Linked DNA regions of Homo sapiens. The protein of the gene in region 2 interacts with the protein of the main gene of each other region in a pairwise test. Each region holds a gene or a part of one and is shown on either strand. Other genes may lie near its edges. The genes, in order: CDK18, KIFC3, CWF19L2 and TFIP11.

Region 1 (8,574 bases), on a different chromosome or scaffold from region 2:
TGTGGGAGGTCAAGGTGGGTGGACCACCTGAGGTCGGGAGTTCAAGACCAGACTGGCCAATATGGTGAAACCCTGTCTCTACTAAAAATACAAAAATCAGCTGGGCATGGTGGCACACGCCTGTAATCTCAGCTACTTGGGAGGCTGAGGCAGGAGTATCGCTTGAACCCAGGAGGCAGAGTTTGCGGTGAGCCGAAATGGCGCCACTGCACTCCAGCCTGGGTGTTGCAGCGAGACTCCATCTCAAAAAAAAAAAAAAAAAAAAATCCTTCAAAGCTAACACTGCCTTCAGGAAAAAGTTCAAATTCCAGGGCCTGGCAGACCAGGCTTTTGGATCCCTGTCTTCTTGAGCCTCAGCTCTCACCCCTCCCCAGAAGGTCTGGTTTTATCAAATGTACCTGGCATTCCCAGAGCAAACTCCACTCACACCCCACAGCTTTGCAATCATTTGGCCTGGGATGCCCTTCCTCAATTTTTCCCTCGGTAAAACCACTCCCAAACTCAACTCATGGGTCACTTCCCCTGGGAGACTGTGCATGACCACACCTTCTTCCTCTAGGTAGAATGAGATGCTTCCTCCTTGTCCCTTCCAGAGCAGCCAGCACACACTCATAACTAGACTGTGAGATCCTTCAGGACAAGAATGGGGCCTTAACATTTTTGTTTCCCTGATGCCTTACACAGAGTAAGGAGCCCACCAGGTACTCAGCATTTGTGGAACGAATGAACAAGTGACTGAATGAGGCCATCGAGCCACTGCTTCATGATGACTTGTTTAAACCTCTTTCCTCTACAGATATGGAAACATTAGATCCCTCAAGGACAAAGACTGTATCTTAGTCACCTTTAAGATCCAGGACACACTGCCACGTGCAATAAATGTTGGTGCCTTTCCTTCCACTTTCAGGCAGGCCAGGGACCTGTTTCTAGGTGTATCTTCTCATTAGGCCATCTCCTGTCCTAGTTAGACTTGAGCATGATTGGGGTGGGCCTGGCCCTGTCCTCTTTCTGGGCACACTAGAGTAAGCCTAGACTGTCCAGTCACCCAGCCCCAGACTCCCCGGGGCATGCTTCCTCCTCAGTTTTCTTGGGTTTCAGAGGGAACAGGAATACAGGGATTGGTACCCAAGCAGATGGATGGGGGACTAGGGAGAAACCAACAACGTGCTACTCATCCTGCCATGGGGACCTCTGCATCTCCTCTAGCCCGAAACTCCACTGTCCCCAGCCAGGTGATGGTCCCTCTTCTGTGCTCCCACAGCTTTCTGACATCCCAAGGCAGGGCACTTGGCTCCCTGTCCTGTAACTGTTTACTTGTCATTTCCCTAGTTTGCCTGTGGGCTTTTTAAGGGCAAGCACTGTGGCGTGACTCGTCATTGCACCCCCAGAGCCTGACCCAAAGCCTGAGACAAAGTGAGCCCTCAAATGACCAGCAAATGAAATATGAAAGCTGGACTCGAGGCCTCAGCTGAAACCTGACCCTCTTCCTCTAGCCAGCATGTGGCCCAACAGCAGCGGGAGATGGGCTGAGGCAGTGGGGGCAGTGTCCTGCCCAGCAATTACTCCCCCAGTGAGGTCTGTGGAGGTTTTTGGGCTGGAGGCACCATCCTACAGTGAGGGGTGGACTGGAATGAGAAGAACCCGAATGAGAAGTTCCTCCTGCAACATGCATTGAGCTAGGGCCTCCAGGGCTGTGGGGAAGGGGTTCGGAGGGGCTTGTGGCCCTCTTCCTGGCTCTATCACTCAGGGAAGATTCTCAGAGCCTTGTAGGGCAGGTGCACTACTCAGGCTCAGATGTTGGCCTTGACCCCTACAGATGACCCTTTCTGACCCCACACGACCTCCTATCTAGCCCCTCTGTGTGGCTCCACTTCAGTCCTACTGATGTCCACCCTGCTGCTCTCTGGCTTCCTGAGGCTTAAGGAATAGAGGTGCATATTGCATCTTCTGGTATTTTCCTTTTGACCTTTTTTGGGGGCCCAGCTAAAGCTGGTCTGCACTCTCTGAGGAGGCTCAGGATGTCCAAGTGATAAGATGGGACAAGGAGCCCTTCTGTCAGTTCTGGTCCTGGGCGTACAGAACATCCCAGATCAGAGACCAGAGCAAGGGGCAAGGGCCAGGATAGGCCTGGCCTCCATCTCCCCCATCCTCCTGCCTCCAGAGAAAGCCCGCCTTACTCTCCCAGCCAGAGGAGCCCTCTCTGCTCCTTTTATCAGCCCTCTTTAAAGACACTCAAGGAAGGTCCTTCCCCAACTGTCCTGTGTTTTTGAGATCCCAAAGTCTGGAACCTTTCCTTAGGTCTTCCTTAAATACCAGAGGAAACAGCTTGTTTCCTCTCCACTTGCTCTGGCACAGAAACTGGTGCCTACCATCTTTTACACAATAAATTGGAGAAGAAAAGAAGAGTGTTGAGTTCACCCACCCAATAGCCCTCTCTCAGCCAGATATCCCGTGTCCAGCTCTCCTGCTGGCCTGTCATGGGACCTTCAGTCCTGTCTCTGGGTTTCTCTCCATGCCCAACTTTGGCAACAGAACTGCAGGGGCCTTTGAGCCTGGCATCCCTGGGGACCTCTCAGTCTCAGGAGGGGGAGGGAATGGGGAGGATTTCCCAGCATCTCTAAACCATATTCCTATTTATACTCCACCCCCACCAGCTGGCCCACGCCGCCCAGTGCCCACATTCTGACAAGAACCCCTGGCTGGTCGTCTCCAACTTTCCTCATTCCAATCTGAGAGACTAGCTTAAAAAAAGCAGCTTCATGTCACCGCCAAGAACTCCACTGGGCTCCTCTGACCAGCTCCCAGCTTCTGGTCACTTGGATTGCCCCGCCTCTCCCTCCTCACACTCCGCATGGCCTCCCTCCCACCAGGCTGGGCCCAGGAGGCCTCCTTGGCCTGCATGGCCTCCCCCAGGCCTCTGAACATCTCATAGTTGTTCAACTGTTCTCTAAATGTCTTTTATCAGTGTCACTCACTCACCAGGGTTCAGCCTCCTCAAAGTCACTCACTCATTTCACAAGCACCTGCTCAGCGCCAGGCACTGTCCTGGGCCCTGGGCCTCGGATTCCACTCCCTTTGGCTGCCTGGGTCTCCTCCTGCTTCTTCCTTCCTCCCGGGTCTGGTGGACTTACTTCCTCTACCTGTCCCTTGAATGTCAACACTCCCACAATTCTCTCTTTGGCCCTTTGCTCTTCCTCTCTGGGCATGCTTCCTGGGTGACCTCATCCCCTCCCGAAGTGGAAACCACCACCCGCGTGCTGATGACTCCAGATCTGTAGCCCTGGCCCCACCAAGCCCCTCAGCTCCAGATGCTTGGGTGCAGCTGCCTTCTGGGCACCCTGCCTGTGTGTCCCCCAAGGGTTCAGTTAGAGGTATGTGTGTGTGTGTTTTCTTTTGGAGACGGAGTCACCCAGGCTGGAGTGCAGTGGCGTGATCTTGGCTCAGTGCAACTTCTGTCTCCCGGGTTCAAGCAATTCTCCTGCCTCAGCCTCCCAAGTAGCTGGGACTACAAGCGCACGACACCACACCCAGCTAATTTTTTGTATTTTAGTAGAGATGGGGTTTCACCATGTTACCCAGGCTAGTCTCAAACTCCTGAACTCAGGTAATCCGCCCGCCTCGGCCTCCCAAAGTGCTAGGATTATAGGTGTGAGCCACCGCACCTGGCCAAGATGTGTTTTTAAGTGAAGAGGACAGATGTGTACAGTTTGTAAAAGCTGTACGTATGCAGGATATACACATGTGTCACAGGCATGCACATATAAACACAGCACACTGTTAGATAACCCAGAAGGTGGTAAGTCAAAACACCAGCAGTAGTTATTCCTGGGTGATAGAATTATGGGTGATTTTAATGTCTTCTTTTTGCTTATCTGCATCTTCTAATATTTCCATAATGAACATTTATTGCTTACATAAGAAGAAAATAGCAACACTTCTTTTTAAATGAAAAGAAAGTACTTTTAGATTGAGATCCTGGAGCAGTTTAGTGCAAGGCCTGGAGAGAACTATGATTATCTTGAGCAGGGGTCAGCAAACCTTTTCTGTAAGAGGCCAGACAGCCACTATTTTAGGCTTTGCGGGCCATCGTCTCTGTCGCCACTCTGCCACTCTGCCTTTGCAGCACAAAAGCACCCACAGGCAAGATGTAAATGAATGAGTTTGGCCTCACACCAGTAAAACTTTACTATGAACACTAACATTTGAATTTTATAAAATGTTTAAGGGTCACAAAACTTTATTTTCTTCTTTTGACTTTTTACCGACTGCTTAAAAATGTAAAAATCATTCTTAGCTCATGGGCCATACAAAAACTGTCGGGACTTGGCCAAGAGCCATGGTTTGCCAACCCCTAGCCTTGAGCATCCAGTGCCTGTGTAGTGTTTGAATCCAGCATCCATTTCTTTGCGAGGTAGTTGTTCTCCTCCTAATTGACAGGGCTGAGGCATTCCAGGATTTCCTTGCCCATCTCAGCATGGCAGGGACCAGGTACCCAGCCATCAGCTGGGGCAAGCCCCTGGCTCTACAGTTTGGAGGAACAGGAGGCTGAGCCCCTCTTGGGACCCCAGCACACAGCTCACCTTGTTAGCAGGACAGGCAAAAGTCGGAGCCTCAGACCAGCAGCCTCAGAGGGGCCTTTGGAAATCCCCTGGTCTGCACCCTCATGTTTCAGGCAAAGAAGGCAAGACTCAGAAAGGTGAGCGATCTGCCCGAGGCCACTGAGGGTGACAGGGCAGAGCTGGGACCACACTTTGGGCTTCTGACTTTGTGCAGGGTTGGAAGGGACTGCATGGGCCTGCGTAGAGATGGCACTCCCTTTATTGGTCACCACAGCCAAGAAAGTCACAGCATCCCCAAGGGCCACCTTCCTTGGGAAGGAGCCATGCCAGGTTTGGCACCCACACAGAACATGGCACCCAGCCCAGCCACGGCAGGGGATGCTGCCAGCTGGGCTCCACGGCAGGATCAGGGAGGGGCTCTGTGACCCCTTTCCTGGGCTCATCCCATGTTGCAGGCAGAGTTTGGGAGCCAGTGCTGCTTTGTCAAGAGTGATGCCCTCTAGCATAACACCTACCGCCCACCTGCTTCCAGGCAGTGGGTCCTGCCAGGATGTGGGAAGGACAGCCCTGTCACCTCCTGGGCTGGTCACCCCGCAGCCCAGGGTGCTGGGTGGCTGGGGCCAGAGAAGAGAAGAAGGTCTGGTTCCTGAGGAGACTCCCCAGGCAGAAAAGGGCAGGCTTCTTTAGGGAAGCAAGGTGTGAGGGCAGTAATCATTCTGGAGCTCTGAATTTCCCTCGATAATGATAAGATGGGGAACAGTGTTCAGAGTGAGGGAGGGTAGAAATTTTTTTTTTTTTTTTGAGACAAAGTCTTGCTCTGTCACCCAGTCTGGAGTGCAGTGGTACAATCCTGGCTCACTGCAACCTCTGCCTCCCTTGTTCAAGCGATTCTCGTGCCTCAGCCTCTGGAGTAGCTGGGATTACAGGTGCCTGCCACCATGCCTGGCTAATTTTTGTATTTTTAGTAGAGATGGGGTTTCGCCATGTTGGCCAGGCTGGTCTTGAACTCCTGACCTCAGGTGATCCACCTACCTCGGCCTCCCAAAGTTCTGGGATTACAGGTGTGAGCCTCTGTGCCTGGCCAGAAACATTTTAAGAATAGAGTTCTCTTCCCAATTTGGGGGCTGATCCCTGATGTTTGCAGGGACCCTGATTTCAGAAAAAAATATCAAGTGGGGCCAAAGGCACTGAGAACTACCAAATGTAGCCCATTAACTCTGCCACCACCCCTTGATAATGACATCAGGTAAAGCAAAGAGCTACTAGGTGGACATTATCTCACTGGAGTCCTCGCAATCACATGAGATAATAGTATTATCCTCCTATTTTATAAATGAGGAAACTGAAACCTGGGTGAGCAAATTACTTAACCTAAGGCAACCAGTTACTGAGTGGAAGAGGCAGAATCTGAACTGACCCCAAAGTCCATAAATTGCCTCCACCCATGGTGGACAGGAGACATACACTCAACATATAAATAATGATGAGTGCACCAGCCAGCCATTATTGGGTCATCTTGTCTATCCCGACTCCACCATTTCTAGGGAAGACTTTTATTTAATGGTGGGGGTAGGGAGGCTCAGAGGGTGGGACCATTATCAAGAGCTCCAGGAAAGAGGATCTCATCATAGTCCTTTCAAAAGTTCTGGCCCATGTCTCCCAGAGCAAGGTGTCCAGTCTCTTCAGGGTTACTCATGCTGTCAGGGAGCTTTGCTTCAAGACCCGTTTTTTGTTTTGTTTTGTTTTGTTTCTCGCCCAGGCTGGAGTGCAGTGGTGCGACCTCGGCTCACTGCAACCTCCACCTCCTGGGTTCAAGCGATCCTCCTACCTCAGCCTCCCGAGTAGCTGGGATTACAGGCACACGCCACCATGCCTAGCTAATTTTTGTATTTTTAGGAGAAACAGGGTTTCATCATGTTGGCCAGGCTGGTCTCAAACTCCTGGCCTCAAGTGATCCACCCGCCTTGGCCTTCCAAAGTGCTGGGATTACAGGCATGAGCCACCACACCCGGCCTAAGACCCTTTTCAATTTTTTTTTTGACAAGTTCTTGTTCTGTTGCCCAGGCTGGAGTGCAGTGATGCAATCATGGATCACTGCAGCCTCAACCTCCTAGGCTCAAGCGATCCTCCCCTCTCAGCCTCCCGAGTAGCTGGGACTACAGGCGCGTGCCACCACACCTGGCTAATTTTTGTATTTTTTTAGAGATGGGGTCTTGCCATGTTGCCCAGTCTGGTTTCGACCTCCTGGGCTCAAGCAATCCGCCCACCTCCCTTTTCAGTTTAAAACCAAACCTCACACTTGCCTCACTACCCCTCCTCCTCTGCAGATGTAGCTGTGGAGATTCTAGGAGCAGATGGGCTCTCTTTCAGACAGGAGGTCTGGCGGAGATGCGCCCACGGCTTTTCCTCTTCCAGACTTGCTGCTGAACCACTGGCCAGCTCCAGCCAGGCCCAGCTACCAGCTCTGTAGTGATCCTGGATCCCAGACCCTTGGCCTGAGCTGTTGTGAGCCCAGCCTGTGTGTGCATGTGCATGCAGCTGTGTGTGTGTAAGCAGCTGTGGGAGCCAGGACAAGATTAACCTTGGTCTGCTCCCACCCCCTGGATGTGGGAAAGTGCCCACTCAGCAGGGAATGCCTGGAGGGCAAAGGTGAAAAGTCCAGGGAAGGGGACGTAAGGGGTTATGGTGGGACACAGAGCCGAGGAAGAGAAATGTGACTTATTGCCAAAGGTGGGCTAATCAGGTGGGCCTGGAACCAGGCCAGCCACTCACCCTGAACAACAGAGCAGAACAGGGACTGCAATTAATTAAGTACCAGGGGAGGGTCCTCCTACCTCAGGGAAAGAAGGCGCTGCCAGAGGGCCCTCAGAGCAAGAGACTGCTGCCTCTCCAGCTCCCAGTGCCTGCCTCATTCATAACTGCCAGAAGGTAGGGCCCCCACAGCACAGATTCCTGGCCCCTCCTGGAAGATTTCCATCCAACCCATTCCCCTACCACCACCACCATTCTCTTACACAGAGCCCTCCTCCCTAACCTGGAAGAGCAGTAAAGATTCTGTCTAACTAAGGGCTTGGCCTGATGGGGCTGGGAAAATCTACCTTGGTCTCTAGACCAGCCCTGGTGCAATCACCAGGAAATTCCCTTTCCAAACAAGCACCACCAACCACTATAGCTACCAGTTATTTAGTCTCTGCTACATGCCAGGCACTGTGCATTATTTTTTTTTTTTTTTTTTTTTTTTTTTTTTGAGACGGAGTCTCGCTCTGTCGCCCAGGCTGGAGTACAGCGGTGCAATCTCGGCTCACTACAACCTCCGCCTCCCGGGTTCACGCCATTCTCCTGCCTCAGCCTCCCGAGTAGCTACAGGCACCTGCCACCACGCCTGACTAATTTTGTGCTTTTTTTTTTTTTTCAGTAGAGATGGGGTTTCACCATGTTAGCCAGGATGGTCTCGATCTCCTGACCTCGTGATCCGTCCACCTCGGCCTCCCAAAGTGCTGGGATTACAGGCGTGAGCCACCGCACCCAGCCTAAATCTTATAACAGCCCTCTATTATGATCCTCATTTTACAGATGAGGGAACGGATGCTGGGAGAAATTCACGAGTGTGCTAGTGAGGGGAAGGTCACATAGCTACTATATGCTGGAGCTGGATTCCACCAAGGCCAGAAGTTTGCCCTCCCCTTTAGTTCTCAAGCTCAGTTAGAGAAGAACAGAAGGAATCAGAGGACAGGTAGATGGAGATGCTGGACAAAAGTCCCAACAGGGTGATCCCAGAAAGTAGAGGCTTGGTTAGGGTAGGAACCGGGAAGAGTCAAGCCGGGCTCTGCCCTACAGTGTAGGACGCATTCCCGAGTGCGGGACGGCCCAAGTAGGCAGAGGACAGAGTCCGAGTCTGTAGAGGAAGCAAATGCACCCTGAAAGGCAGCTCCATGTCCTCTAGACCTGAGCGGGGGTTTGCAGGGCTGGCAACCTGATCCCACGAGATCTCAGACCAAGAACCTATTTGCTCCTC
Region 2 (6,947 bases):
GACACCCCCAGGATGCCTCCAGGGGCAGGACTAGAAGGGCACCTGCCCCTTCCTCTGAGCAGGGCTCCGATCAGCTGTCACTCCCTGCTGGAGTCCCCAGCACTGGCTGGCGGGAAAGGGCTCCCTGCTCCGTGGGCACTGCGACAGGTGGGCCCCCTCCTGCTCCCAAGGCAGGGACCAGGTACAGCCCCGCCCCGGGGTGGTCAGGGTCCTCGGCACTGGAGGAAGGTGGCGTGGACCTCTGGCCAGTTCACTGAAGAGGGAAAAGGCCAGGGCAAAGAGTGGGCAGTGGGTGGTGCCCAGCAGTAACCTGGAAGCCCAGCATGGTTTGGGCAAGGCTTTGATAGCCTTTGAAGCTCTCTCCAGCCTTAGTTTCCTTCCCATCAGTAACATGGAGGAATGCCCCTGTTGGGAGGTCAGTTATCGTGGGCACATGGTAGGTACCGCATGAGGCGACTGTGACCACAAACAACAGAGAAAGTGACCCAGGGTGGGACAGCGCAGGCTCCCCCCAGTTGTTTGTTAAGGACGCATGTCCCTAACTGACCTAGAGGACAGATCCCAGAGGGCTGTGGGGTGACCAGCCAGCGGGGGAGTCCACAAGACCTGCCAGTGCCCCGTCCCCCTAATCAGACCAAGAGGGGCTCACAGACCAACTTTTTCAGACCATACTTGTGTAAAAAGGCTTCTTTTATTTTAATAAGTAAAAATGGCTAAGCTTCCAAAAGTTCTTAAATAGGATTTCAGAGGGAAGAAAATTCGAGAGACCAGCGAGCCAGGCAGGTGAGCGAGCAGCAGAATCCCCCACCCGCTGGCTGCCTCTGCCAGCCATAAACACAGCACGGCCCCGTGGCGGGAGGCCATGCGCCTCCGCACACCCCCCAGCTGCGGGAACCCTCCTTGAAGGAGAGGGGCGGGGAGGGCTGCCATTGGTGCCACCAACCCACCCCAGTCCCCATGGTTCTTGGGTCTGCCCAGAGGCTCCTCGCCCACCCCCTAAGGAGGGGGCTGGCCAGCTCTGCAAGCTGAGGAGAGGGGCCGAGAAAGCCTGGGTGAGAGGCCCACCCTCCTCCACACTCCCGCCCTCCTCACGGGGCCCAGTTCGCTGATGGCCCAGGCCTGCCAGGAAGAGCAGCCACCCCCGCCTTTCCGCCCATGCAATTTGCACTCAGAGCCACAGCCGAGAGACACCGTTTCCTTCTGAACATGTTTCTCATCTTTGAGGGGAGACGGGGCAGAAGAAGAGCCTCCACTCTCGCCTCTACCTCCGGGGGTCCTGGCGCTGCAGCAGGGACAGGCCAGTGAGGGCCCAGCTTCAGGCCCAGCGGGGTCACATCCGTCACACAGGCAGTGGCCGCGACTTCCCTGCAGGGGCATGAGATCATCAGCCTCTTGTCCACTTGCCCACCGGCAGCCCACAGCAGTTGCCACCGAGAGCAGGAGGGAACCCAGCAAAAGCACATAGACAAGCGACAGCAGGGGCTAGACCCAGCTCTGAACAGCAGAACGTCCCAGCGCAGCCCTGCAACCCACTGCGGGCAGGCAGGCGGGCAGCCCTGGGCCACAGGCCCCACACTCACCTAGAGACTCTGCAGCCCCAGCCGTCAGGCTGAAATCAAAGTGACAGGCGTCTCACTGGTGGGCTTGCCTTGGGCCAGTACCCCACAAGACCCTGCTGCTGCTACCCCTTTGGACTCAAGGATGGGCCAGGCCCTCCCATGATCTGGGCTAAACAGGGGCTGGAGCCCTGGGTCCCGGTCCTGTGGCGGGGCTCACTCCTCACCTAGGAGGTAGGCAAGCCCGGCCCTTTCTACCCCCGGGGCAGCTGAGGCACAGGGAGGGGGCTGCAGGGGCTGCTCTGGAGGGGGCTTACTGCACAGGCTCAGCCAGCCCATGCTCAGAGAGCAGGGTCCCAGGGTAGAGTCAGCACCCCCGGCTGAGAGGCTGGGGTCTCCTTACACTGCCCCCTTCCCACAGACCTTCCATTTCCCACCTGCAGAACGGACACAGCACTGTCTGCCCTGACTACTGCCTGGGGGCAGGGGAGGTTGTAAAACAGGTTCTGGAGAAGGTGTAAGAACTTTTTAAAAAGGAAAGAAAAGAGAAAGCCCATCCAGGTAAGGGCAGCCTGGTGACTATTACCCTGGGGAGACTCCCCACCCACACTGCCACTCCAGGCTCACCCGAGGGCTGCAGCTTCCTCCGGATGGATCCAGGGCGGCTACTGGTCCCAGAGCTGGGGGCTGAGTGGGCCCGTGCCGAGGGCTGTGGCGTCTGACAAGCCGGCTCCCACTGTGAGCAGGGAAGGGCGGATGGGCGGGGGCCACGGCTGCCCTGGCTCCCCACCCTGCTGTGCTTCTCTCTACTCCCCTGCCCTGCCTCCTAACACCCAGTTTCCTCATCTGCAAAATGGGCATGATGTTTGTGCCCCAGCCTCAGTTATGGCAAGAATTAAATGAGATAATTCATGTAAAGAAGTCAACTAGTTACCACTGAGCATCTACTATGTGCCACCCCCACGGCCAGCTCGTCACCCCACAGGAACCTCCGAGGCCAAGAAGAAATACCTGTACTGAAGAGGCTGCTGGCTGTGGGTTCCAGCCGTAGCTCCACCCAACTCCGGCAGCTTCCCTGCCCCCACTGCTTCAGGACGTCCCCGCCCAGCTCCCTGCTCCTGCCATGACCCAAAGTCTCTGACCCAGGGCCACCTGAGCCAGGCCTGTGACAGTCCCCGTACCTCTAGATGCTCCTGGCTTGACCAGGACCCAAGCTCTGCCCTGCGTAGCCCAGGCCCCAGCTCCACAGAGCGCACCCTCTCAGCAAACTTGAGGGAATAGAGCGTCTCGCTAGTGTTCTTCTCCACGGGGGACACCTAGGGGACACGAGAGCTCACTGCCCACCCGGGCCAGCTGGAGGGGCAACAGGGTCACGAGAGGGAGCTCACAGCTGGGGCCGTCAGAAGGCTTCCTGGAGAGGCCTGAGGGATGGGGTGGGAGGGCAGGCAACATGGCAGAGGTGCTGTGGTCAAAGGTGGAGAGGAGGGACTGGGAGTTACACAGGGTGTGTGTGGCCAGGTCTAGGGGCGGGGAGGTCCATTTGCACAGCCTGGGGTGACTGGGTCTCACTGCTAGCGTAGCCCCTACATGCTAGGGACTGGCCCGCCCTAACCCAAGGTCCTCACCTGTACCACCATGAGGGTCTTGCTGTCACCACTAAGCGAATCCTGCAGCAGGTAGGTGAGCTTGGAGTTGCGGAAGGGCACGTGGCCCTGGCGGGAGCGCAGGGCAGCAATGACGTCCCCCAGAGCCGACAGCGACTTGTTGATGTGCTGCGCCTCCCGCAGGCGGCTGCCCTCGGCCCCCGACTTGCCCACGCGCTCCGAGCCAGCCAAGTCCACCAGGTTCAGCTTCCCTGCAGGGAAGGCACCCACCAGATCAGGCCTGCCCTGCCCCTTGGGGTTGTGGGGATCCTCAGGCCAGGCTGCCTGCCACTCTCACCCGTGGTGCGGAGGCCTGTGCTGCAGTCCACGCCTCGCACCGTCACGATGAGCAGCGCGTGCGAGCGGGAGCTGTGCTCGTTCAGGTTGGTGAACTCGGTCGTGCGATTAGTGTGGCCAAACTCAAACACCTGGGGGATTGGGAGGAGGGCAGAGGCACAGCGTTGAGAATGGGGTCCTCAGAGTCACCTGGCCCCAAGCACCCATGAGGAGTGGCACCACCCTCCGCAGTTTAGATGAGGAAACTGAGGCTCAGAGAGGCGTGCGGACTTGCCCAAGGGTGCGTGCTTAGGACACAGCAGAGCCTACATTCAAACCCAGTTGTGTCCTCTAGAGCAGTGTGGCTGTGGTCAGGGGCTCCCGCCTCCACACCTTGTTGATGTCGTCCACGCTCTGCACTTGGAACTCAGTCAGCCCTGGTACATACAGCTGCCCACTGCCGTCTGGGCACAGCCGGATCTCCAGTTTTTCCTGAGGCTCTTTCCCTAGCAGGTCCCTGGAGGGGCAGGTGAGACAGTCACCCCCTCCTCCCATTTCCAGCTGCTGTTTGCACTGCACCCAGCCCCCCAGCCAGGAATGTTCCCCCAACCCAGGAAGCCTTCTCCAGCCATCAGCTGAGTGCATCTCTCCTCCTCCAGCTCCTCCACCGCATTCAGCTGAAGACGTGGAGATCTCACTCCACAATACAATGAGCCCCTGTTGGCAGGGCCCCTAGCTGCCCACTCTCACCCATGGCCACCTGGTGTAGCCCACAGGTAGGGGCAAGGATTGCCTGGGTCTCAGAGAGAGCCCCTCCTCCCCCCAGAACCATCCAACCCACTGGGCTGAGTCAGGACTTGCAGCCAGGTCCCTTGACGGCCTCATCTGGTCCCTACACTCCCTTCACCTTGACGGCCTCATCTGGTCCCTACACTCCCTTCAGGAAGACCCCACTTCCTATCCCCCATTGCTCCAGCACCACCCCTGAGGATCCCAAAGCTGCCCCTGAGGCCTGCTCCCCACATACTGGGGGTCCCACCTGAGGACCTCGTTCCAGCACCACCCCGGAGGACCCCAAAGCTGCCCCTGAGGCCTGCTCCGCACACCCTGGGGCTCCCACCTGAGGACCTCATTGTAGATCTCCGCAGCGCTGACGGTGATGGTGTACTCCCAGTCAGACGCCTTCTCCTGCACCTCGGAGAAGAGCAGCTGCAGGGCCCGCTGGTTGATACCTGGGTTCTCAGCGGTCCCCTGGGGACAGAAGGAAAGGCCCCAGTAAGCCAGGCCTGTCCCCAAAGACGCTCGTGTGGTGTCTGTCCCCAAAGCCCCTTGACTACCCCTCACAAGCAAGCCTCCTTGCCCAAAGCTCTTACCTACCTGCCACTGTCCCCCAAAATGCCCTCCACCAGCTGCGGGCAACTGCACCTCTATTTCCCCACCATTAAAATGGCATCGCCCTGCCAGGACTACCCTGAGACTTATAGTGCAGCACTGGGATGAGGGGCCTGGCCCAGACCCCACACAGGGCAGCTGAGGGCCAGATGCATGCCTGGCCCTGTGGGGCCACCTGGGAGGGGCACTGGAAATGAATGACCCCGCCACTGCCCAGAAAGGCGCTCAGTCTCAGGGAGGCTGAGACCTGGGCTCTGTGGGTGGTAGAGAGGAGGCACAAGGAGGAGCGGGCCAGTGTCCTGGGGAAGGACGGGTGGGCCGGCCTTTCTAGAAGGAAACCTGGAGTCCCCACCCGGGACCTCGAGGCCCTGGGAGCCTGGCCCTCACCCCTCTTCTGATAGCACCTCTCACTCACTCTCTATTCCGGCCACAGGGGCCTCCTGGCTGGGCCTCAGGTGCCCCTGGCATGCTCTGGCCTCTTGGCCTCAGCCCTGCAGCTCCCTCTGCCCCGGGTACTCCTCTGACCGCCCCTTGGCCGGCTCCGTCATCTCCCTCAGGGAGGCTGCTCCCAAGATGCCCCCTCAGGGAGGCTGCTCCTTCGCCCAGCACCCCCAAATGCCCTGTCCCTCCCCCTAGTCAGTTCCGCATTCCTGGCTTTATTTTTCTCCCTGGCCTGACAGGACACTTGCTGATTTGTGTAGACCCTGCTGTCTCCCCACAGCCAGGTTGGCCCTGTGGGGAGGGCCCTCTGTGGGGGCAGGGACTGTTTGGGTCACAGCTGTGCCTGGCACGATGCCTGATACACCTTATGCATCAGCAGATACACTTGAGGATGAACGCTCTGATGTTCCTGGTGGTCACCTCAACACTAAGCAATCCCAAAGCAGAGCGGGGAGCCCAGAGGATGCCGCACACATCCCCTTCCTCCTCCTGCCTGGCCTGGCCTGCCCCCACTAACTAGTCTCACCAGTCCCAGAATCGAGGGAACAGCAGAGTCCAGATGGGAAATAAGAGGGCCGCCCAGCAGGCCTGGCTAGCCCCTTCCCCTGTCCAGACGCCACACCACCTGGCCTCCTCCTGACCTAGGGAATCAATCCCACAGCACCCCTCAGAGCCAGGGCTAGCTTTCCACTGCCCTCTGCCCACAGTCAAGATCCTTCCTAGTCTCAACGCCCCTCTCCCTGGCCTGCCACCTGCTCCACCACACCTGGGAGGGTGCCGGTGACGAGCAGGGAGAGGAAGCCTTGGCCTGGCCCCAGGGACCACCGGCAAGAGCTGGGCTCCCCACAACAGCCTTCATATGCCAGTCTTGCCCTGGGATCTCCTTGAGGACTGAGACCCGCCACTCATCCCAGATCCCCCAGGCCCGGCCCAAGGCAGCGGTAAAGCAGGAGTGTGCAGTGCACACTCAAGGTGAAATGCAGCCCTGGTCCTGAGAGAGGTCGGTGGCCTGCCCCAGACTCTGTCCCCAAGCCGAGATCCCTGTGATGATAGTCCCCCCTTGCCTCTCTCCCAGTCCTGCTGGGCCCATTGTGGGTGCCCTTGGGCAAGGGGGCCCCCTCTTAAGGCCTGGTGCCTCAGGGCTAACACAGATAACTACAGCCTCTGCTCCTGGGTTGTGAGGACCAAATGAGGCAAAACACACACTGCACAATACCCCAAGACCAATGAGGGAGCCCGCATTCCCTTCATGCTTCACTGTGAACCCCCACCCCATTGGGCAGCACCCACCTCCATCGTGTACGTCTTGCCGGCGCCCGTCTGGCCGTACGCAAAGATGCAGACATTGAAGCCATCAATGCAAGAGGTGACCAGGGCCTGCACCTCCTGGAACACCTGGGAGGGTGGTGGGAGGGAGGCTGGTGGGGGGGCTTCCAGGGCCGCTGGGACCACCAGCTACAAGTCCAGCCACCTCCCCAACCATGCTGTCCTTCAGCAACACCACATCACGTGTTACTGCAGTCACTCAGCTCACAATGATTCGTGACTCATGAGTCATACATTAGACAGTAGTGGGCAACCGGGCCGCCCAAAGACTGCAGGGAAGACAGGCCAGTGCCTGCTGCCCTTCCCCCAGCTC
Region 3 (8,614 bases), on a different chromosome or scaffold from region 2:
AATTCCCAAATCATATCCCTATCCTCTTAGCCTTTCTCTGAAATTCAAGATCAACATTTCCAATATTTTCTGGACATCTCTAAGTAGATGTATCCCAGATATTTTCATATCATAACTAGTAATATATTTTTTACGTTTTCTTGTATTTTAACTTCCCATAAGTTACACATTCAAATAAAATGTTCTCAAATAGCTGCTTTGATTAATTTTAGTACATACTTACTGATGAGCTATCAGATGACTCATTGTTTTTTTCATATTTCTGTTTCTTGCTCTTTTTTTTCTTTTCTTTCTTTGCTTTTTTTGAATGCTTGTCTTTTTTCTTCTTTTTCTTCACAGAGTGTTCCTACAATCATTTTGAACAGGCAAGAAAATAATTTAATTTCATCTTAATTTAAAAGGATGTATTCTGAGAGAAAAAAAATAAACCACATTCTAAAAAACTTTCAATCTCTGATGAAATAAGACCAAGAATATGTCTAAATAAATAAAATCTTTCAGGAAATCTTAACACACCTTCTATAATATATGCACTATCAATAAATCATATAACTGAGACTTCTTACCAGAAAAATACTGGGAAAATTTTGGCTTTATTTGTAGATTAATGTGACAAATATAATCAAATAAACACATATATACACAAACATGTATACATGCATCTATACACACACAAACACACATACATATAATATCCCTCTATGGTCTCCCCAAAAATTTATACAAGACTATTAGGCCATAAAAAATATAACAAGATAGCACAAATTAAAATTATAGGAAGAGGCTAGGGGAAGGAGCAAGGATAGGGAAAGGGAAGATGTTGATCAAAGGGTACAAAGTTTTCATGACACTAGAAATAAGTTTTAGTGATCTATTACTGATGACCACATTTAATAATAAGGTATTATCTATTTCAAAGCCATTGAAGAACAGACTTTTAACGTTCTCACCACAAAAAAATAAGTTGATGAGGTGATGGATATGTTCATTAGCTTGACTGAATCTTTCTATAATGTATACATAGATCAAACCATCACACTCTAACCCATAAATTTACACAATTATTATTTGTCAATTAAAAATAATTTTTAAAAAAATTATAGGAAAACAGGCTTGAGACCTAAAAAAATAAAATAAAATAAATACATAAAGCTTAAAATGCATAAATTTTTAGGCCTATAAGCTTGCTATAGTGGGCCAGAAATTTGAAGCTGTCTTCTACTAGCCAAACTCAAATAACAAAACTTGAGTCATAATGTCCAAAATATTACAATATCTTACCTCTGCCAAAGAGATGAAACTATTCAGCAATGCCAACTATGTGATATTCATTTTGTAACTTATGAAAACATTCTATAAAATTATTCATCCAATATTAACTTGAATACGTGCAAAAAAGGACAGATATCCTTACATCACGTAAACCTGTTAGTATTCACCTGTGAGAACTGTTCAATTCTCTCATTCACATCAGGTAGCATCCATGTATCCTCACCCCGAAGTCGCTTAAGTTCTTTACGCCTTTCTTCTTTTTCAAAATTGGCTTTAGCCTACAACCAAAGAAAAAAAAAAGACAAACTGGCAATTGACCCAACTGGGTTTCACAAAAAAAGGAAAACAAAAACCTCTGTCATTTTTATACAAAAATATCCACTCATGAATGAATGTCTATTCCTTGCCAGGGATTTGCTTCTCCAGTGTAAAAAAATAAAAAAATAAATAAATAAACAAAACAAAGCAAAAATCTCTCCTTCTGCATTTCCAATCTCCAGTGATTTGAGTTACCAATCAGAGAGAATCCAGGGACTGAGTCCAGGCCCTCCCATCTCTCTAAGCTCCCTAGCTCAATATGACTTGGAATCCCTTTTCCCTTCACCATTCCCATGGCTACTGCCTTAAGACTTTTGCAACAGTTAGACCTCCACGCCTTCAATATGCAATGCCTGTAGCCCCAATACCCAGCCCCAAAAATGCCTCAGGAAGAATCATCTCTGTATAAAGAAAGGATCATATTGGTAATTTTTATCCATTCTTCAATGATAGTCAAACAAAGCAAGTTTTTCCTAGGAAATCGTTCCTGCCCTCTTTCTTTCCCTGTAACTCCAAAGCTCAGTTTGGTCCTTTTCAAATTCTATGCATATCTCTACTATAAGATTTATCTCAACTTACGAAACTTACTCCCTCCAAAAACTGCTGGAAATACCAAAGAGAAAAGAATGAATAATATATATATACCCACACACACACATTACATATGTTGAAATTACGAAACAATACCAACATTTCACCTACCCAAGACTAATCGCCCACTCTTCCCCTTTAAAACCTGGCTGTAGTCATTTTCTTTTTTTTTTTAATCAAATATAAAAATAATTTATTAAAGGTTTATATCAGAGAACTGCTGAAGCAACAAGAACTAGAAGAGTTAATATTCCAGAAAAGGGAAAATCATGGAGAGGTAGTCCAACATTCTGCAGCTAGCTTTTCCCTGGGTGCATATAATAATTCTTGGTGTAGGCAAGAAGATGAATACAATGGTTATATACCAAACAGAAAAATCGATATCAGAGAAAAGAGCAGGGCTTATGATGGACTCCAAAGAACAGGGTGAGAAAATTGGAGATTAAAGGAGAATGGGGCTGCTTCACCCTCAAATTATTTGCCAAATTTTGAAACTATGTCATTTTCCCTTTAGAGTCTCCTCTCCCTCTTCTCTGCTGGCTCCTTCTCATTTGCATTTAAACTTGTTTAAAACTCTTCCAACTTAAATAAAAACAAAAACCCTCACTGAATTCTCTGTTGCTCTCCAACTGCAACTTTTCTCTTTCATTGCCACACTTCTTACATATTGAATAGATTGTCAGATAATTCAGAAGCTTACTTTCTCCATTCTTTGTATGTTACCTCTATGTATCTGAAGTTTAGTGAGAAATACAATGTTTCGCGATCTTTTGTGACAGGCTAAATATACTGAGATTGGTGTTAACTTTTGTTTGGATTGGTAAGAGCTTACAGTAAGTCTGGAATTGATACCAATAGAGACAGGAGGAGGAAATGTCAAACTGAGTCTATTCAAGTGTGACTTGAATGTGTTTCCGAAAAAGGAAAATCTCATTTCAGATACAGCAGTAGCAATGACTGAGGCTGCGAGACATGCTGGCAGAGTCCTTACAAGCCGCAGGGGACCTACAAAGTGTGCAGTCCGAGTGATAGAAATGTAAAGAATGGGTAACTTAAAAGGTAAAGAAACTTGGAGAAAAAGCGACAGATCTGCCTGAAAAGAGAATTAGCAACTGGCACCTGCCAGAACATCTAAAAAATCGGTAGCTACAAAAGGGTTTACCGGCATTGCAAAGGGAGAACTCACCCAAATTAAGGTGAGATTCAGTACTGACGAGGTAAGGGAAGGGGTGAGTGGGCTAGCTTACGGGAACCCTCAACTCCCACAACAATAAATAACTACAAAAGCCCCAAAACAGAGGTACCTGGCGCAACACCTCGGCCCTGGCATTCCGGGTCTGTTCTTTCCGCTCTTCGATACTCTTCGCACTTTCAAATCTACCACTAGCAGCCGCCATACTTGTTGCCATCGTAAAGCTAAGAAGCCGCAAGAAAATTCTAGTTTACGACGGTCGTAATTTAACAAACAAACCGGGACTTCCGGACCCGAGGAAGGAGGAGCACGGCTCCACCAACAGGGCATGCGCACATCTGAGGTCGCTTAGGGCTCGGATTACCGCAGCCCAGATTTTAAAGACCCGAAGGGTGTTGGAGGGTTTAATTCTTTCAGGTGTTGGGTGCGATTGTGAGCAGGATTAATACCCGTATATATTTATTATGCACTTTTTACTATATTAACAGCTTTCTCACCAATTTCGTCTTAAAATCACCGGAGTAAGTTACAAGCTCTTGGAAGTTAAGTTGGTACCTCTCAAAAGTTTTCTGCGGAAGTACCCTTTGTCGCCAGAGCATCATTTCCCTGTGCTGGAGGAATGGGATAAAGGGAGGCTGCCAGAAAGGTAGTGGCAGCTGGCAGGAAGGACAGAATTGCCTTGAAGATTCAGTGTTTTGTTTTGGTGGATTTTACTTAATATATGAAACACTCATGTGAATTTTGCATTGCACTTCACAATTTACCCGTGCTTAACTTGTTAGAAGTTTACATTATATTTTTTCCTCTGACCCCATATTATTTACTCATACTTATCCATCCAAGCATTTTTCATTACAATGGACAGTTACTTATTTATTTCTGCGGAGATTTCTTTGTTTTGTTTTACGCATGTATCGCCCAAACATAAAACTTTTAAGTTCAGAAGAATAAGACATTCTAAGGTGATGAAGTGCTTTGAGAACATAAGACACTAAGCTTACATTTACAAGAAGAAGAAGGCTGGGGAATTAATTATAAACGATACCTTAAAGACGCTAAAAATAAGTAACATAAGCCAGGTTGAGGTAAATACTCTTTCTCTTCAGGTTTCATAAAATTTAATGTGTGTTTGCAAGAAGCTTTCCAAGAGTTTTTACATTCACTACCATTCTATGAGTCTGAATCTTGAACACACAATGCCTACTTGTTTGATATGCAATAGAAAGTATTCATTTTATTTTAAAATGTAATTTACTAATCGACCTTGTAATATTTAATCAACTGACTACATTGACTGATATTTGTCATAACTAGCATCAACGTCTTTTCAGATTCTCTTGGAATTCAGAAAAACATCCATTTCACTGTTTTGCATCAATTCAATAAAAATAAACTGTGATTATATTAGAAACGTGTGTGTTTTAATCAGTTCAGGCTGCTATAACAAAATATTATAGAATGGATGGCTTATAAATAACAAACAAGTATGTCTTACAGTTCTGGAGGCTGGATAAAATCAAGGTGTTGGGCTATTTGCTGTCTAGTGAAGGTGTGTCCTGGTTCCTAGAGGGCAGTATTTTTGCTGTGTCTCATATGGCGGAAAGGGAGAGGGATCTCTCTAGAACTTCTTTTATAGGAATTCATGAGGGTGCTGCTCTCATGACCTAATCACCTCCCAGAGTCCCTACCTCCATATACCAGCACATTGGGGATTAGATTTCAACATAAGAATTTTGGGGAAACAAACATTCGGTCTAGAGCAATGTGCAAAGTTATATGAAGAAAACTTTAAAATCTTGCATAAGCTCCCCAAAAAGACTAGAACGAATGGAGAGGTATACTATGTGCTTAAAGAAGAAAACATCATAAAAAATCATTTCTCAATTAATTTGTAAATACCATGCAATACAAATAAAACTGCCCAAAAAAAAGTTGGGGTTAGAGAGGGGAACTAGATATGTTAAAATAGAAAAAAGAAAAGAAAAGAAAAGAAAGAAAAAGCAGGTTATTTTGGCTAGGTTTGCATTTGGCCACACCTAATGCGAATCCAGTCACATGGCTTAATCAAATAAAGGATAACGTAACAAGGAGCCTAAAAGTAACTGGTCCAGGCTTGGTGCAATTGCTGAAGGAGCCAAATAGTTTATCCTTTTTCGCTTTGTTGCAGTCTGTGACTTTAGTATTTGTAGTCACAAGCAGGGTATCATATTCTTTCACATCTGTTCACGGCATCTGATAAACAAGAATAAAGAGAAAGGACAAAGGGTAAACGTTGTTAGCTAAGCTGGCCTCATTTTTTATTAGAAAAATGATGGCTTTTCCTAAAGCCTAGTTCAGTTTCTTTCATTTAAATCCTATGATCCAGAAATAGGTCAGATGATCACAATTAACTACAAAAGTTTCATGAAGATTGCAGGATAGTTGTGTTATAGAATGTCACTCAACTTGGGTTTGTCGGAGGTTCTTTTGTGATTAAATTCAAATTTGGCCTCTTAAGCAGGACGATCACAGAAGTGAGGCGGTCTTACTGCATCCTGTTGGGTAGCGCATGATTTCCATTTGTTCCATTACAGGTGATGTTAATTCTGATCATTTAAATAAACTGGCATCTGCAGAGCTTCTCTGCTGTAAAGTACCTCTTTTCCTTCTATAATAAGTATTTTGTGAAGTGGTTCTTTGAAACTATGTAGATCATGTACCAAATTTTCAAGTTATTTATTTTTATATAATACAGATTCATAATTTCTCAGTGGATTCCTGTTTTTGTTCAGTGGGATAAAAATTCGTTATCAGTATTTATTTTGATCCTCAAATTGGTCCAGGTTAGGCCAGTGAGAGCCCTTTCAAGCTGGTTCCTGTGTCCTTTAGACATGTACCCACATTCTTTATATATATATATATATATATATATATATATATATATATATATATATATATATATATACTTTAAGTTCTGGGGTACATGTACAGAATGTGCAGGTTTGTTACATAGGTATACACGTGGTATGGAGGTATGCTGCACCCATCAACCCGTCATCTACATTAGGTATTTCTCCTAATGCTATCCCTCCCCCAGCCCCTCACCCCCCAACAGGCCCTGGTGTGTGATGTTCCCTCTCTGTGTCCATGTGTTCTCATTGTTCAACTCCCACTTATGAGTACATGCGGTGTTTGGTTTTCTGTTCTTGTGTTAGTTTGCTGAGAATGATGGTTTCCAGCTTCATCCATGTCCCTGCAAAGGACATAAACTCATCCTTTTTATGGCTGCATAGTATTCCATGGTGTATATGTAACACATTTTCTTAAACCAGTCTATCATTGATGGGCATTCGGGTTGGTTCCAAGTCTTTGCTATTGTGAACAGTGCAGAGATAAACGTACGTGTGCATGTCTTTATAGTAGAATGATTTATAATCCTTTGGGTATATACCCAGTAATGGGATTGCTGGGACAAATGTTATTTCTGGTTCTAGATCCTTGAGGAATCACCACACTGTCTTCCACAATGGTTGAACTAGTTTACACTCCCACCAACAGTGTAAAAGCATTCCTATTTCTCTACATCCTCTCCAGCATCTGTTGTCTCCTGGCTTTTTAATGATCGCCATTCTAATTGGCATGAGATGGTATCTCATTGTGGTTTGATTGGCATTTCTCTAATGACCAGTGAAGATGAGCTTTTTTTCATATGTTTATTGGCTGCATAAATGTCTTCTTTTGAAAAGTGTCTGTTCATACCCTTAGCCCACTTTCTGATGGGGTTGTTTTTTTCTTGTAAATTTGTTGAAGTTCTTTGTAGATTCTGGATATTAGCCCTTTGTCAGATGAACAGATTGCAAAAATTTTCTCCCATTCTGTAGGTTGCCTGTTCACTGATGATAGTTTCTTTTGCTGTGCATAAGCTCTTTAGTTTAATTAGATCCCATTTGCCAATTTCGGCTTTTGTTGCCATTGCTTTTGGTGTTTTAGTCATGAAGTGTTTGCCCAAGCCTATGTCCTGAATGGTATTGCCTAGGTTTTCTTCTAGGGTTTTTATGGTTTTAGGTCTTACATTTAAGTCTTTAATCCATCTTGAGTTAATTTTTGTATAAGGTGTAAGGAAGGGGTCCAGTTTCAGTGTTCTGCATATGCCTAGCCAGTTTTCCCAACACCATTTATTAAATAGGGAATCCTTTCTCCATTTCTTGATTTTGTCAGGTTTGTCAAAGATCAGATGGTTGTGGATGTGTGGTGTTATTTCTGAGGCCTCTGTTCTGTTCCATTGGTCTATATATCTGTTTTGGTACTAGCACCATGTTGTTTTGGTTACTGTAGCCTTGTAGTATAGTTTGAAGTCAGGTAATGTGATGCCTCCAGCTTTGTTCTTTTTGCTTAGGATTGTCTTGGCTATGCAGGCTCTTTTTTTGTTCCATATGAAATTTAAAGTAGTTTTTTCTAATTCTGTGAAGAAAGTCAATGGTAACTTGATGGGGATAGCATTGCACCTATAAATTACTTTGGACAGTATGGTCATTTTTACAGTATTGATTCTTCCTATCCATGAGCATGGAATGTTTTTCCATTTGTTTGTGTCCTCTCTTATTTCCTTGAGCAGTGGTTTGTAGTTCTCCTTGAAGAGTTCCTTCACATCTCTTATAAGTTGTATTCCTAGGTATTTTATTCTCTTTGTAGCAATTGTGAATGGGAGTTCACTCATGATTTGGCTCTCTGTTTGTCTGTTATTGGTGTATAGGAATGCTTGTGATTTTTGCACATTGATTTTGTATCCTGAGACTTTGCTGAAGTTGCTTATCAGCTTAAGGAGATTTTGGGCTGAGACGGTGGGGTTTTCTAAATATACAATCATGTCATCTGCTAACAGAGACAATTTGACTTCCTCTCTTGCTATTAGAATACCCTTTATTTCTTTCTCTTGCCTGATTACCCTGGTCAGAACTTCCAATATTCAATGTTGAATAGGAGTGGTGAGAGAGGGCATCCCTGTCTTGTGCCGGTTTTCAAAGGGAATGCCTCCAGTTTTTGCCCATTCAGTATGATATTTGCTGTGGGTTTGTCATAAATAGCTCTTATTATTTTGAGATACATTCGATCAATACCTAGTTTATTAAAGAGTTTTTAGCATGAAGGGGTGTTTAATTTTATTGAAGGCCTTTTCTGCATCTATTGAGATGATCATGTGGTTTTTGTCATTGGATCTTTTTAAGTGATGGTTTACATTTATTGATTTGCATATGTTGAACC
Region 4 (4,734 bases), on a different chromosome or scaffold from region 2:
TGAAACCCCATCTCTACCAAAAATACAAACCAGCCAGGTGTGGTGGCGGGCGCCTGTCGTCCCAGCTACTAGGGAGGCTGAGGCGGGAGGATGGCTTGAACCTCGGAGGCAGAGGTTGCAGTGAGCCAAGATCTGCCATTGCACTTCAGCCTGGGCAACAGTGAGACCCTGTCTCAACAAAAAAAAAAAAAAAAAAAAAAAAAAAAAAAAAAAGCCAGGAGTTGTGACTTATGCCTGTAATCCCAGCCCTTTGGGAGGCTGAGGTGGGCAGATCACCTGAGACCAGGAGTTTGAGACCAGCCTGGGCAACATGCCAAAACGCTGTCTCTAATAAAAACACAAAAATTAGTTGGCCACGGTGGTGCACACCTGTACTCCCAGCTACTCGGGAGGCTGAGGCACAAGAGTCACTTGAACCCGGGAGGCGGAGGTTGCTGTAAGCTGAGATGAAAACGGACATTGTCTTTGCTCTTTGTGCTTCTTTGGCTTTGCCAGTACTAAAGCTGTGCCTTACAGACCGGGTTTCTCTTCCAGGGATGTGTCTTGGTGAGCTAGTCATTAACCCCCACCAGCAGCACATGGATGCATTCTATTGGGTGATTGACTGGGAAGGGATGATCTCTGTCTCTAGCCTGGTGGGACTTCTTGAAAAGCACTTCTTCCCCAAGTGGCTTCAGGTACACTTTGTTTTGCTTGGATTTCTGGGGGAGGGAACTGGGTGGGGATTAAGTTAATTTTCTGCCAAGGCCTGACTGTAGGTACAATTCCATAATGAAAATAAATTACATGGTAGGGTAGGAATGAGTTAGGTCATCTTCATAGTGGGCACCATTTATTGGACATTTGCCATGTATCAGAAGCTGTTCCAAGCACTTTATTTGCTTTATCTCAGCTCCTCTCAGCAACCCTATGGGGTAGGGGATATGGTATCCCTGTTGTGTAGACATGGAAGCTGAGGCTCAGAGAGTTTACATGCAAGGGCACTTTAGCTACCAGGCTGACTCCAAAATCCATATTCATAAGTGCTAGACTGTTTAGCTACTATAAATCCCTGTAAAGTAGTGTCACTAGCCTGTAGGACCAGGATCAAAACAAAACAAATGGCCACTTCAGAAATCTTGCCTTCATTTGTTGCCACGATGGATGCAAGTAATTTTTCTTTTTGGCAGGTGCTGTGCTCTTGGCTCAGTAACAGCCCAAATTATGAGGAGATCACCAAGTGGTACCTGGGTTGGAAGTCGATGTTCTCAGACCAAGTGCTGGCACATCCATCTGTCAAGGACAAATTTAATGAGGCACTTGATATCATGAACCGGGCGGTGTCCTCCAACGTTGGTAAGTGAGGATTCCCATTTTGGATGTCCTGGCCCCAAGTTTCAGATTTTACACATGTAAATGACACAGAATCAGAGTTTTCTGGTTCCTGTAGGCAGCCTAAACCTTAGGTCACACTTTTGCACATAGCAACAGACTCTCACCCTGCTGACTGGGGTACATGGTCAGCTGGCACCCACTGCCCAGGTCTACCATGACTGAGAGGGGCATCTTCCCTGAGTGGAGACTGACTTAAGCTGGATTCAGATGATGTCAGTCTAACCCCAGGCCCCGCCCTCTTAACCACTGTGCTGTGTGGCCTTTTAAGGCTCATTCATGCCTGAGCATGCTGCTTAGGTGACGCATCTTACAGTGTGGAGTTTGGCACGCGGTCTGACACTTGGTGATTGCTCAGCCTTAATCAGCCCCATTTTACCTGTTAAACAGTAAGATCTACTTTATAGGCTAAAAGGGAGAGTGAGTTCATGCTTGTGTATAGCCTTCAATAGGTGGTGTCTGTGTTGTCAAAAACAGGCAGTTCACTGTTCGTGTACTATATCTGTTCCCAAGTTCTAGGTAAGTCATTCTGCCTAGATCATAAGTAAGTGAGAGTATATTTATGTTTCTACATTTGGGAGCCTATTTCAACCAGTCCTGTGCTCCAGTGTTGCTCATTAGCCGATTCGCAGCATTGAAATGGGATCGTCTAGTCTGTGTTTTACAGATAAGCCCAGCGAGGCTGAGAGCCTGTTCAAGGTCACATAGTTAAAGGGTGGCAGTTAGAACTGGAATTTCTATTTCCTGAGTCTTTAATTCTTGTTATTTAATAGCCTAGGCCAGGCACGGTGGCTCACGCCTGTAATCCTAGCACTTTGGGAGGCCGAGGCGGGTAGATCACGAGGTCAGGAGTTCGAGACCAGCCTGACCAACATGGTGAAACCCCGTCTCTACTAAAAATGCAAAAATTAGCCGGGCGCGGTGGCACATGCCTGTAATGCCAGCTACTTAGGAGGCTGAGGCAGAAGAATCGCTTAAACCTGGGAGGCAGAGGTTGTAGTGAGCCGAGATTGCAAGCACTGCACTCCAGCCTAGGTGACAAGAGCGAGACTCGGTCTCAAAAAAAAAAAAAGAAAAATAGCCTATTCTGTGAAAACAGAGATTAAGTAATAAGGCAAATATACTTCTCTGCTTCTGTAATTATCAAGTTTTTTCTAAAAACTCTTCCTTAGCTACCCTTGGCCTCATGTTTCCAAAACTGTTCCCTGAATATACCCCTCAATTAGCACTTAGCATTTATGGTCTTGGTATTATCCTTTAAACACTCATTTCAGCTCCCTAAATATATGTGAACTTCTTTCAGGATGGGGGCCCTGTGTGGGTAGGTTAAAAATAAAGCCAGTATGGGCCCTATGTTTTCAAGGTACTAAAAGCTGCCTCTTTGGTGGTGGGAAATGGAAACTCTACAGAGCAAGGTGGGAACAGAAGAGTGGCTGAGGACTCTCTGTTAATGTTTCCAGCTCTGAAGGAAGAAATCCCTTGCAGATACTTCATTTTAAAATGTTGAATATTAATAATCTGGTTACTAGATACTAGCCAGGAACCTTCTGAACAGTTTTTATGTGATACTGGCCAGTCGTCTAAACTTCCTCCAAAGTTGTATCTTTGAGGCAGAGCTGCCCTTCAGTGAGTCACAAGCACTCTGGCACACCCAAGACCTGGGCCAAGCCACAGTGTCAACTTCCATACACCTGGAAACACCTCTCCTCACCGCCCTGTCCTCCTGTATCTTAGGTGCCTACATGCAGCCAGGAGCACGGGAGAACATTGCCTATCTCACCCACACGGAGCGGAGGAAGGACTTCCAGTACGAGGCCATGCAGGAGAGGCGGGAGGCTGAGAACATGGCTCAGAGGGGCATTGGCGTGGCCGCTAGCTCTGTGCCCATGAACTTTAAGGACCTCATTGAGACCAAGGCTGAGGAGCACAACATTGTCTTCATGCCCGTCATTGGGAAGCGACACGAAGGGAAGCAGCTCTACACCTTTGGCCGCATTGTGATCTACATCGACCGGGGAGTGGTCTTTGTCCAGGGCGAGAAGACGTGGGTGCCCACCTCACTGCAGAGCCTGATCGACATGGCCAAGTGAACTGTGGCAGGTCCAGAACCAGTCAGAGACTTGCCCCTAAGAGGGATGTACTGTAAATAAACAGTATTTTTAGATCACCTTCAAAAGGGTAACTTCTTTACTCAGGAGCTACTCCACATCAGGCCAGGTCATGAGGGAAGGATGTAAAATGGGACAATGCCACGTAGGGCAGGAATCTTTATACCAAGTCCTCATGTGGGGTATCGTCCTCAAAACAGGACAGCCAAGTTGATGTTCTTTCCTGGCAAAGGAGTTCTCTGTAGTTCCTCCATAGCAGCCTTCCCTTTAGTCTCTGGTGGCAGCTTCTACCTCAGCCAACACTGAGTACCTCACAACGAGTTCAGTCAGTAGCAGAAGGATCTTCTCTCTTGTTCCTGATGATTTCAAGGTCCTCACAGTCCTGATAATCTGGTTCTTCCCGAAACTCCCAAATATCTATGGAGAGCTGTTCTAGCTTTTGCACAGGGAACCAGTGGACAGAGGTATCATTAAATATGTCCATGTATTGTGAAGTCTGAGGAAACTCAAGCTCCTCCAGTCCTTTTAAAATCTGAGCAGAAAAATTCAAGTATAAAAACTTCAGATAGTCACAGTAATCCCCACTCTTCTGGGATAAATTTCCACTTTACTTGTCATCCCCACTTTACTTTTTAAAAAAATAACAAATAGGGTATTTTGATTTAAATGCTTTTGCACAATGAATTGGGCGCCCCAAGGACAGTGGATATCATGGACTGTGATACTAAGAATAAAGGAAATAAGGAAAAAACTAAGAGATGCATTAAAGAGTCATAGCTTTCTGGAACACAGACCCATGGAGAGAGCTGACAGTACACTAGCGCCACTTAGCCCATGAGTTTCCTCCTACGCCTGTAAAGAAAGATAGAATTCTTCACAGTTTCACACCCTTTTCCATCCCAGCCCCTTTATTCAGATAGATACCTTTGCAATGTAGGGATAATTTTTCTGCAGAATCCTTGCCAACAACCTAGAAATTAAAAAAAACCAAAAAAACAAAAAAAAAACACCATGATTAGGAGGTATGAGGATAGTTTCATTCAACTTTTAAGACACATAGAAGGGCAAGATGATTGAAGCATAGTAAGAATTCAGGAAAAAACTCAAGATGTGGAGTAAACCAGTTAAATAGTTGAAAATGTGGGCCAGGCGCAGGTAATCCCAGCACTTCAGGAGACTGAGGCGGGCGGATCATTTGAGGTCAGGAGTTCAAGACCAGCATGGCCAACATGGTAAAACCCCATCTCTACTAAAA

The links.
Region 1: the proteins of KIFC3 (region 2) and CDK18 interact in binary tests that used the Homo sapiens proteins (3 or more experiments, as listed by UniProt).
Region 3: the proteins of KIFC3 (region 2) and CWF19L2 interact in binary tests that used the Homo sapiens proteins (3 or more experiments, as listed by UniProt).
Region 4: the proteins of KIFC3 (region 2) and TFIP11 interact in binary tests that used the Homo sapiens proteins (3 or more experiments, as listed by UniProt).

Annotation. Positions count from the first base shown.
Region 1 is NC_000001.11:205,506,866-205,515,439, reverse strand, and holds part of CDK18 (cyclin-dependent kinase 18), read right to left. Parts: intron 3,124-8,574; exon of another isoform or gene 2,980-3,123; intron 1-2,979. UniProt on the Homo sapiens protein: May play a role in signal transduction cascades in terminally differentiated cells.
Region 2 is NC_000016.10:57,757,545-57,764,491, forward strand, and holds the end of KIFC3 (kinesin-like protein KIFC3), read right to left. Parts: intron 6,704-6,947; coding exon 6,599-6,703; intron 4,727-6,598; coding exon 4,596-4,726; intron 3,993-4,595; coding exon 3,869-3,992; exon of another isoform or gene 3,771-3,868; intron 3,628-3,770; coding exon 3,498-3,627; intron 3,412-3,497; coding exon 3,182-3,411; intron 2,873-3,181; coding exon 2,738-2,872; intron 2,293-2,737; coding exon 2,184-2,292; intron 1,610-2,183; coding exon 1,605-1,609; 3' UTR 1,581-1,604; intron 1,366-1,580; coding exon of another isoform or gene 1,340-1,365; 3' UTR 673-1,339; downstream 1-672. UniProt on the Homo sapiens protein: Minus-end microtubule-dependent motor protein. Involved in apically targeted transport. Required for zonula adherens maintenance.
Region 3 is NC_000011.10:107,454,227-107,462,840, forward strand, and holds the start of CWF19L2 (CWF19-like protein 2), read right to left. Parts: upstream 3,600-8,614; 5' UTR 3,591-3,599; coding exon 3,486-3,590; intron 1,551-3,485; coding exon 1,440-1,550; intron 347-1,439; coding exon 224-346; intron 1-223.
Region 4 is NC_000022.11:26,490,740-26,495,473, reverse strand, and holds the end of TFIP11 (tuftelin-interacting protein 11), read left to right. Parts: intron 1-534; coding exon 535-677; intron 678-815; exon of another isoform or gene 816-1,169; coding exon 1,170-1,335; exon of another isoform or gene 1,336-3,105; coding exon 3,106-3,461; 3' UTR 3,462-3,801; coding exon of another isoform or gene 3,802-4,011; 3' UTR 4,012-4,234; downstream 4,235-4,734. Other genes in the region: SRRD (SRR1-like protein), read right to left, coding at 3,802-4,011, 4,404-4,449. UniProt on the Homo sapiens protein: Involved in pre-mRNA splicing, specifically in spliceosome disassembly during late-stage splicing events. Intron turnover seems to proceed through reactions in two lariat-intron associated complexes termed Intron Large (IL) and Intron Small (IS).